2 separate regions of the Homo sapiens genome follow, and region 1 is linked to region 2. Evidence: fine-mapped expression QTL. A gene starts in region 2. The other region holds a variant in brackets. All regions are shown on one strand. Distances are from middle to middle.

Region 1 (5,000 bases), 97 kb after region 2:
GCAATCAGTAAAGAGAAAGAAATAAAAGGCATTTAAATTGGAAAAGAGGAATTCAAACTGTCCCTTTTTGCAGATAATATGATCTTATATTTAGAAAAACCTAAAGACTCCACAAAAAATTTCTTGGAAATGATAAATTCAGTAAAGTTGAAGGATATAAAATCAGCATACAAAAATCAGCAGCATTTCTATACACTAATAATGAAATAGCTGGAAAATAAATCAAGAAAGCACTCCTATTTACAATACCTACCAAAAAAACTGGGAATAAATTTAACAAAGGATGTGAAAGATCTCTGCAAGGAAGACTACAAAACACTGATAAGGCTGAGTAGAATAGTTCACACCTGTAATCTCAGCAGTTTGGGAGGCCAAGGCAGGAGGATTGCTAAAAGCCAGGAGTTTGAGACCAGCCTGGGCAACAAAGCAAAATCCTGTTCTCTACAAATAAAAAATTTAAAAAGTTAATCTGGTGAGGTGGCCTACACCTGTAGTCCCAGCTACTTGGAATGCTGAAGTGGGAAGGTTGCTTGAGCCCAGGAGTTCAAGGCTGCAGTGAGCTGTGATCACACCATTACACTCTAGCTTGGGTGACAGAATGAGACACTTTCTCTAAAGAATATATATATATAAATTTAAGTGGATGTATTGTAACCCTGATAGCAACCACTAAAAAAATTTATACAAGATAGAGTAAAAAATTCAATGAACTAAAATGAAATATGAAAAAAATTATAAAATCCAAAAGAAGGCAGAAAAGGGAAATAGAGGAACAAAACCCTGAGGATACAATAGAAAATAAAATGTATAACTCAGTCTAAACACAACAATAATTACATTAAATCTAAATGGTCTAAAACCACTAATTAAAAGGCAGAGATTGTCAGATTGGATTTTTTTTTAAAAGACCAAATTATACATTTTTATTTAGAAGCCCACTTTAAATATAAGGAGATAGGTGGACTAAAAGTAAAACACTGGAAGAAGTTATAACATGCAACATGAAATTTGGGAGGGGAAACAGATCCAGACCATATCGACCAATGTCAAGGTGGTTTATTGTGTTTTCTTCTAGGAATTTGAGAGTTTCAGATATTACATTAAGTTTTTAATCCATTTTGAGTTAATTTTAATAACTAGTACAATTTCAATTTTTATACCTTCTTTTTTCCTTTTCTTTCTCTTTTTTTCCCCAAACTGTTAGAACTAACAAATAAATTTAGTAAAGCTGCAGGTTACAAAATCAACATAAAAAAATTAGTTGCATTTCTATACACTAACAACAAGCTATACAAAAGAGAAAGTAAGAAAGCAATTTTATTAATTACAGCATAAAAGAATTTTTTTTTTACATGTGGATATCCTGTTTTTCTCCACACCACTTATTGAAGAGACTCTTCTATCTGGATTGTGTTCTTTGCATTATTAAGAAAGATTAGTTGGCTATATATGCATGGGTTTACTTCTGGATTCTCTATTCTGTTCTGTTGGCCTATGTGTCTATTTTTCAGCAAGTACTACACTGTTTTGATTGCTATAGCTTTGTAATGTAGTTTGAAATGAGGAACTATGATGCTTTAAACTTTGTTCTTCTTCGAGATTGCTTTGGCTCCTCAGGGTCTTTCATGGTTCCATATGAATTTTAGGATTGTTTTTTCTATTTCTGTGAAAAATGCCCTTGGAATTTTGATAGAGATTACATTGACTCTGTTAATCAGAGTCTATAGAAGGTGGTATTATTATGGACATTTTAACAATAGTAATTATTCCAATTTAAGAATATGAGATATCTTTCCATTTATATGTGTTTCTTCAGTTTCCTTCATTAATATCTTATAGTTTCCAGTGTACAGATTTTTTACCTTCTTGGTCAAATTTATTCCTAAGTATTTTATTCTTTTATATATTTATTTATATATATGTATATATAATTTTATTTGAAATATTCATATATATATATATATATATATATATATATATATATATATATATATATATAAAATCTCCCAGGTTCTTGGAAAATTTCTTTCTGGTTTTCAGCAGTTTTACTATGTGCCTAGATGTTATTTCCTTTGTATTTATCCTACTTGAGGTTCAATTGAGTTTCTTGGATTTCTGGGTTTATGTCTTTCATTAATCTTGGAATGTCAATGGCTATTTTCTCTTCAGATGTTTCTTCAACCTCATTTTCTTTTTCCTTTCCTACTAGGATTCCAAAAACACCTGTATGAGACCATTTAATATTGTCTCATAGATCTCAGATGACCTGCTCGTTATTTTTTCACTGTTTTTTCCTTTGTATTTCAGCTTGTATACACTTGTATGTTCACTGCTTTTTTCCTCTGCTTTTTCCAGCTTCTTGGTAAGTGCATCTGAGTTTTTTTCAGACAGGGTCTCACTCTGCCACCCAGGCTGGAGTGCAATGCCACAATCAAAACTCACTGCTGCCTCAAACTGCTGGCCTCAAGCAATTCTCGCACCTTGGCTTCCCAAAGTGCTGAGATTACAGGCATGAGCCACCATGCCCAGGCCCAATTATTTCTCTCTCTCTCT[C/CT]TTTTTTTTTTTTTTTTTTTGAGACGGAGTTTTACTCTTGTTGCCCAGGCTGGAAGTGCAGTGGCGCAATCTCAGCTCACTGCAACCTCCGCCTCCCAGATTCAAGTTGATTCTCCTGCCTCAGCCTCACGTGTAGCTGGGACTACAGGCACGTGCCACCATGCCCAGCTAATGGCTAATTTTTGTATTTTTAGTAGAGATGGGGTTTTGCCATGTTGGCCAGGCTGGTCTCAAACTCCTCCAATTATTTCTTTATTCTTGATTTTTGTTTTATTTCTAGCATTTCCATTTTGTTCCTTTTTTATCATTTCTATATCTTGGCTGAAATTCCTCATCTCTTCACTATGTTGCCCATCTTTTCCACTGAAACCTTCAGCATTTTTATTATAGTTATTTTCTCTTTAGACATTCTGGGCACCTTATCACTGACAACATTCCAGAGACCTCTTAGTACTTCACAGTGGTGCCACCAACCTTCGAAATCCTTGGGAGAGCTATCTCTGCTTTACAACTTAGCTTCCAGCTTTTTGGTCATTGGGTAATTAACTTTACTTTCTCATCTGACTCTGAATTTTGGTGTATCTTCCTCTCTTCCTCCCCTTCTCCTCCTGCCCACTCTGCACTCCCCTCTCCTTCTCCTTCTCCTTCTCCCTCTCCTTCTGTCTCCTATTTCTCTGTCCCAATTCTGTCAGGGAAGCTGCTTTACACTCTGGGTAGAGGCCACACATGGCTCAAGGAGAGTTCCTCTCCACTCCCTTACCCCACTCCTAGTCACAGAGCTGAGAATCCAGAGTGTGGATGGGTTTCTCTCAACTTGTCCAGCTTGATGCCCCTTTCCTGCCTTCAAAGACTTACTACCTTACATTTTGAAGAGACCTTGAATGCTTCAAAAGGATCTCTCACCTCACCTGCACGATTATGCCGAAGCATTAAGTGGAGTTACGTGGGAAAGGGTTTGTGAGTGAGAGTGAAAACTCACTTCTTGGCTGGGAATCCTTGGAATTCTTATCTATCGTGTTTATGACGTGTTCCTCTTCCCATCTCTCTGACAAGAATGAGAATGGCTGTGGGTTTCTTCTATAGCTCACCATTTTGTTTCTAATCTATTTCTTCTTTAAGAATTGTTTCCAGCAACATAAGTTCTATACTTTAACGTGAATCCACATTTAGCAAAATGACCTTTTATCCCAAATTGTGTCTTTCTTTGGTTACCAGTTTGATATCTGCCGACCTCCTGTTTCAGTATACACTAAATATTTGTACATTAAGTAAAATGAGGACAACAAGATGTTTTCAAAAGATTCCTTTTGATTGTCATGTACATAGAAATTACATTTCAAGTAAAAATCCCAAAAAATTAGAAACAGTGGGGAGAGGAGGCAGAGGAGAAGGGAGGCCTTGGACTCCTTGATGAAATTAGGCCCACCAAGTTTCAGGCACAGCAGTTTCTGAATACTAGCAGCCTATATCCATGAAAGGGTAGAATTCATTTGTCTAAGGCTTTAAGTTTCTCTTCTCTTTATCTGATAACCAAGGAATCTAGAATTCCAAAAATGAGTTAATATTTGAAGAGACTTTATATATTGACCTTAGTAAACATCAAGGTGAAAGGCACACTCCAGGCCAGAGTGATAAATACACAAAGAGAAGGCTGATGTGCTTAAAAGATTTAAAAGGAATTAAAATTTATTAGTCCTACCGATAGAAACAATTTATAAACAAATAATTGGGATAATTTATTTTTATGGTTATATGTAATATGACCAATTTCTATTTAATATATTTCTATGCCTGAAGTATTATTCAAAAATATATTGAAACAAATCAAACCTTAGTATTTACTACCTTTAATTTTTATTTATTTATTTATTTAGAGACAGGGTCTTGCTCTGTCACCCAGGCTGGAGTGCAGTGGCATGATCATGGCTCACTGCATCCTTGAACTCCTGGGCTCAAGTGATCCTTCCACCTCAGCCTCCCAAATAGCTGAGACTACAGACACACGCCACCACCCCCAACTAGTTTTTAACTTTTGTAGAAATGGGGTCTCATTTTGTTGCCCAGGCTGGTCTCAAACCTCTGACTTCAAGTGATTCTCCTGCCTCAGCCTCCCAAAGTGCAGGGATTATAGGCATGAAACCACCACACCTGGTCTCTGTATTTTAAATGTAGCAAATTAGAAGATGGAAGTTGTTAGACCTTGGTAGCTAAGGTATGAGGACACAAAGGCGTAAGAATGATACAATGGACTTTGGAGACTTGGGCGGGGGTGGGGGGGCAGGATGGGAGTGGGGTGAGGGATAAAAGACTATACATTGGGTACAGTGTACACTGCTCAGGTGATGGGTGCACCAGAATCTCAGAAACCACCACTGAAGAACTTATTCATATAACACCACCTGTTCCCCAAAAACCTATTGAAAGAAAATTTAAAAAAATAAAAAATA
Region 2 (5,000 bases):
GTGCAGGTCTCAGATAACTTTAAAAATTGTGCTATTGGAATGGAGGAAAAAAAAACAAACTTCTAGGACTCTCATGGAGAGCTAATGTGTTAAACATTGCTAAACCTTTTGTTTTCAGAGTCGAGAGAACTTATTTCTTTAGAGCTATTTGCAGCTTCTAACAAGTGAGTAAAATATACTCCTGTGAACAAAATTTAGAGCATATTTGTTCCTCTCTACCTGATTTCTCCAGAATTTGGAAACTATTTGTGAATATTCTCAATTTATGGCAGTATAGTTAATTGCATAAGTGCAGTAAGAATCTGTTTTCTTTTGTAACAGAACACAATTGGAGAAATTGGTTATTTTACCAAGGCTTTGACTGGAATGGCATGCTTCCTTTAAAGAATCAAAGTTCACTTATAGAGCCAATTAAAGCCCATTGGGGAATCTGGCCTCATACCTTGTCCACACAGAGTGTCTGTGCAAGGTTCCTGACCTGTGGTAAGTAAAGAATGTCACTTTTTAACAGGCCCAGGAACTCCAAGTTATCTTGGGACTTCAAGAGGAAAGGAATTTTCAAATACCAACTCATAGGTATTTGAGGCTGGGCTCAGCTTTTTTTTTTTTTTTTTGAGACAGAGTCTAGTTCTGTCGCCAGGCTGGAGTTCGGTGGCTCAGTCTCGGCTCACTGCAACCTCCGCCTCCCAGGTTCAAACAATTCTCCTGCCTCAGCCTCCTGAGTAGCTGGGATTACAGGCATGCATCACCATGCCCAGCTAATTTTTGTATTTTTAGTAAAGATGGGGTTTCACCTTGTTGGCCAGGACAGGCTTGATCTCCTGACCTTGTGATCCACCCACTTCAGTCTCCCAGAGTGCTGGGATTACAGGCATGAGCCACCGCGCCCAGCCTGGGCTTGGCTTTTAAAAAGTCTTAGCTGAGATCCTTCATGGAACAGAGTTCTATCAGAGCCAATGAAAAAAGCCTAAGTGAAAAATAATTATTCTTGCTGCACTTTATGCAAATAATCAGGCCAAGTACAGTAAGACTAAAGTTTATTTTGTAAACAAATCGGTTCTATCATGGTTTGTTTTGAATAAAAATGGGGACTGGAGAGAGAAAAATTATGCTTCAAAAGAAAAACTATAGTATACAGTTGTTAGCTGGTCTTGAGGTTTTCTTGTGCAGTTTAGACTACACACTAAATTATTTGTGGGTTAGAAGTCCCCAGACTAATGCTTTCAAATCTTTACTTTTAAAATTGGGAATTGTACTCCTCAAACTAGGACTCATTATTTACCTTATAGCAGGCTGTTCACTTAAACACTGTAGTAAAACTATAGATGAGAGTACTAATGTGTTTGCCATGCAACTCTTGGAAACTCAACCAGGCCTGCATGAGTTGCTCAGACAGTTGCAAAGCAATTCCACTCTTCTCACCTTGGGGTTCACTCCCATTCCCATTACCTCCCCTGTCAGCAGGAAGAAGCCAGAGCTATCAACGGCCTTCTCCCATCTTCATAGCCTACCCAAAGGGAAGGATTGAAACCATCTTTGCAAAATTATGATTGAGACAGTGAAAGAGATCTAACTGAACGGATTGCATCTTGCTTCTAACCTCAAAGCTGTCCTTGTTCATTCCTGGGCATAAGCTGAACTAACTTTGGGAGAAACTTAGTTTATAGTTTACACAAAGACGGTAACAACCCTTTCCCAAAGCAGACCTCCTTCTTGCCTGGAGACTAGATTGCCTTTGTAGGACTAACATTAACCACAAGATTTGAAATCAGGTTTAGGAGTCATGCAGCTGGAGGATACAAGATTCTGACTTGCCCTAAACCGCTCCTAAGATCGGTGCTCGAGAGATTTTACAGACCCTGCACTTGATGGATCAGCTGGCACCACCCAGATCAGTAAACTGGCTCATCTGATCTTGTGGCCCCACCCAGGAAGTGACTCAGCACAGGAAGACAGCTTCTACTCCCTATGATTTCACCCCTGACCAATCAGCACTCCTGGCTCACTGGCTTCCGCCAACCCACCAAGTTATCCTTAAAAACTGTGCTCCCCAATTGCTTGGGGAGACTGATTTGAGTAATAATAAAACTCCAGTCTCCTGCAATAAATAAATAAATTAATTAAATAAAAATCATTTATGCTGTGCCTGGCCAGGTCTGGTGGCTCACGCCTGTAATCCCAGCACTTTGGGAGGCTGAGGCGGGTGGATCACTTGAGGTCAGGAGTTGGAGACCAGCCTGGGCAAGATGGTGAAACCCCGTCTCTACTCAAAATACAAAAATTAGCAGGGCCTTGTGGCGCACGCCTGTAATCCCAGCTACTCTGGAGGCTGAAGCAGGAGAATCGCTTGAACGCCGGAGGCGGAGGTTGCAGTGAGCCGAGCCAGATCGCGCCACTGCACTCCAGCCTGGGGGACAGAGTGTGACTCTCTCAAAAACAAACAACAACAAAAATCACTTATGGCGTGCCTGCTCCCTGGAAAGCACTGCCAGATATGTATTTGCTATTGCAGTGTCTATACGCAGTCACATGAAGATTTGGGCTAAAAGACACACTACCTTAAAAGTTTCACATTCTTTCTGGCAAATTGGATTTTTCTTTTTCTTTCCTTCCTCCTTCCTTCCTTCTTTTTTTCTTTTAATTGGCAACTCAGATTTTTCGAAGTGTTTTTGCTATCTCACTGCTGGAAAGCCTGGTTCTGCCTTTCCTAAAATCTCGTGTGCAGGTTCGCACTCCGGCTACTTTCAGGCCTCTAGGGAGCCCAGGTAGCGGCGCGCACGCGCACGCGCACACTTCTCCCTCGCTGGTCTTCAGGCCCGGCCCGCCCTGTCCAGAGGCGCCGGGACCCAGGCGCCTGCAGCCGCCCGCCGGGCCGACGTCCCACGGGAATGCGCGAGGCCTGGACGGGAGTGGCCGAGGCGGTTGGGCGGAGGCGGAGCAGGCGCCATGTCAGCCCGGGAAGTGGCCGTGCTGCTGCTGTGGCTGAGCTGCTATGGCTCCGCCCTTTGGAGGTAGAGAGACGCCAGTCGCAGGCGAGCGACTAGGCGGGGATTACCCCCGGCGGGGCAGGCGGGAGGGTCCTGCTCTCCACCCCATGCGCCTCGGGACCGCTCGCCCTGGCCGACCACTGCCTCGTCTCCTGGCTCCCCAACACCAGCCCCAGTGTCCCACCGCTCCCACCCGAGAGTTTTCCATGAGCGAGAGGGGACGCAGTTAGCACTTTGCTACCCTGCTCCAGCTCCTGCAGTAAGGTCGCAGTACCTTCATGCTGCTGTCCTCAGAACATCTGAGCCCCAATGAAATCTTACTTTTTTGTTTGTTTAGGGCGGGGGTTGTCTGTTTGTTTTAGAGACGGCCTCTTGCTCCGTTGCCCAGGCTGCAATGCAGTGGCGCCATCATAGCTCCCTGAAGCCTGAAACTCCTGGGCCCAAGCGCTCCTCGCACCTCGGCCTCCTAAATAGCTGTGACAACAGGCACGCGCCACCACGCTTGGCTAAATTAAAAAAAAAAATTGGTAGAGACAGGGTCTCACAATATTGCCCAGGCTGGTCTCGAACTCCTGGCCTTAAGTGATCCTCCTGCCGGGGCCTCCCAAAGTGCTGTAATTACAGACTATGAGCTCTGAGCCATGAGCTATCGCGCCCCGGCCCCTGTGAATTCTTACATTCCTCTCACCTTGTGCAGCCTTCTTTTGCCAGAGGAGAGGATCGTTGTGGTCCAAGAGTGAGATATAACAGTGCCCTTTTCATTAAAAAATAGCACATGTCCATCTGCACACCCCACACACCTATGGGCCTCTTAGATCTGTTTCCAACAAGAATACATTAAATATAAGACATAATTAATAAAGCAAGGATGAAAAGGTATTATCGTTGTTATCTGGGACTAAATTAATAAATTAAACGTGACTCTTTGAGCTACTGTTCTCTCCCTAGCCTATCCTTAGCCCCAGTAGGAGTGAGAAGCTGTTGAGGGAGCAGGTGAGGAGAAAAGGCCTGCCAGGAAAGGTCATTTCATCCTTTCACTACCAGATCTTATTAAATTACATAATTTAACTTTGTAAATTAAAGTACAAAATTTGCCACTTGTATTTTTCTCTCTGTATTGAAAGGGATCTTAGATTCATAAGAAGTGTGAGGTGGTTCACACTTCAAAAAAAGCCTTTGATGACAATAGATTTCATTTTTATTTATAGGTATATGTAAAATACATGACTTTTTTTTAATTCGATCTGTATATACAGAAAATGTGTTTCATTATAAAGGTGACTGATTTCCGTTAAACATAAGAATTCAGAGTGCTATTAAGGCTTGTATAATTCTGATAAGGGAATTGCATAATGATATCCTAGCAACTCTTCCTCTACATACAGAAAAAAGGCCTCTGATTTAAAGCTTTAGGGATGGAGCAATTCCAGTTGCAATTAGGTATGCAATGTAGACATGGAATAGATTCTTGAAGCAAATGGAAGGCGAAGGAATTGTAGGGTGGTGATTTATGATAGTCACCAGCTACATGTGCCTTTTGAGTATTTGAAATATAGCCCAAATTGAGATGTGGTGTAAGTGTAATGTACACACCAGATTTCAAAGACTTAGTCTGAAAAAAGAATGTAAGATATCTCAGTAATAATTATTTTATACTGATTACATGTTGAATAAAACTTAAAATTAATTAATTTTAAGTTTAATTTGTTTAGTTTTAATTAAAAGCTAAAAATTATTAAAATTAATTTCACCCATTTCTTCTTGTGCTTTTAAAGTAGCTACTTGAACATTTTTAATTAATAGGAGGTGGCTTGTATTATATTGGACAGTGCTCTGTTAGATGAATCAGATAGACGGGAATTAAGAACCCTCCATCGCAGCAACATGGCAAAACCCTGTCTTTACTAAAAAATACAAAAATTAGCTGGGCGTGGTGGCATGCGCCTGTAGTCCCAGCTATTCGGGAGGCTGAGGCGAGAGGATCACTTGAGCCTGGGAGGTCAAGGCTGCAGT

Alleles and levels. Positions count from the first base shown, and alleles are read on the strand shown. Sizes are in standard deviations (SD) of each study's normalised expression.
For the expression in skin of the gene that starts at base 2,790 in region 2, allele CT in region 1 goes with a lower level than allele C (moderate effect, 0.64 SD a copy in TwinsUK).

What was found. PIP is the estimated chance that this variant, and not a neighbour inherited with it, causes the effect. A credible set is the group of variants that fine-mapping cannot tell apart.
Region 1: its variant is the best candidate, but not a certain one, in a credible set for the expression of CATSPERE in skin (TwinsUK, PIP 0.69).

Annotation. Positions count from the first base shown.
Region 1 is chr1:244,555,585-244,560,584 of GRCh38, forward strand. All of the region lies in intron 9 of CATSPERE (catsper channel auxiliary subunit epsilon), which reads left to right. Among named protein-coding and RNA genes, the nearest start is that of DESI2, 95 kb to the right of the region's middle. The variant C/CT (reference allele first, on the strand shown) is at 2,554.
Region 2 is chr1:244,458,484-244,463,483 of GRCh38, forward strand. It overlaps CATSPERE (catsper channel auxiliary subunit epsilon), which reads left to right and starts at 2,790. Exons shown (of 22, transcript NM_001130957.2): 1 at 2,790-3,011. The coding sequence starts at 2,947. RefSeq lists an enhancer at 1,217-2,416 and a silencer at 2,691-3,040.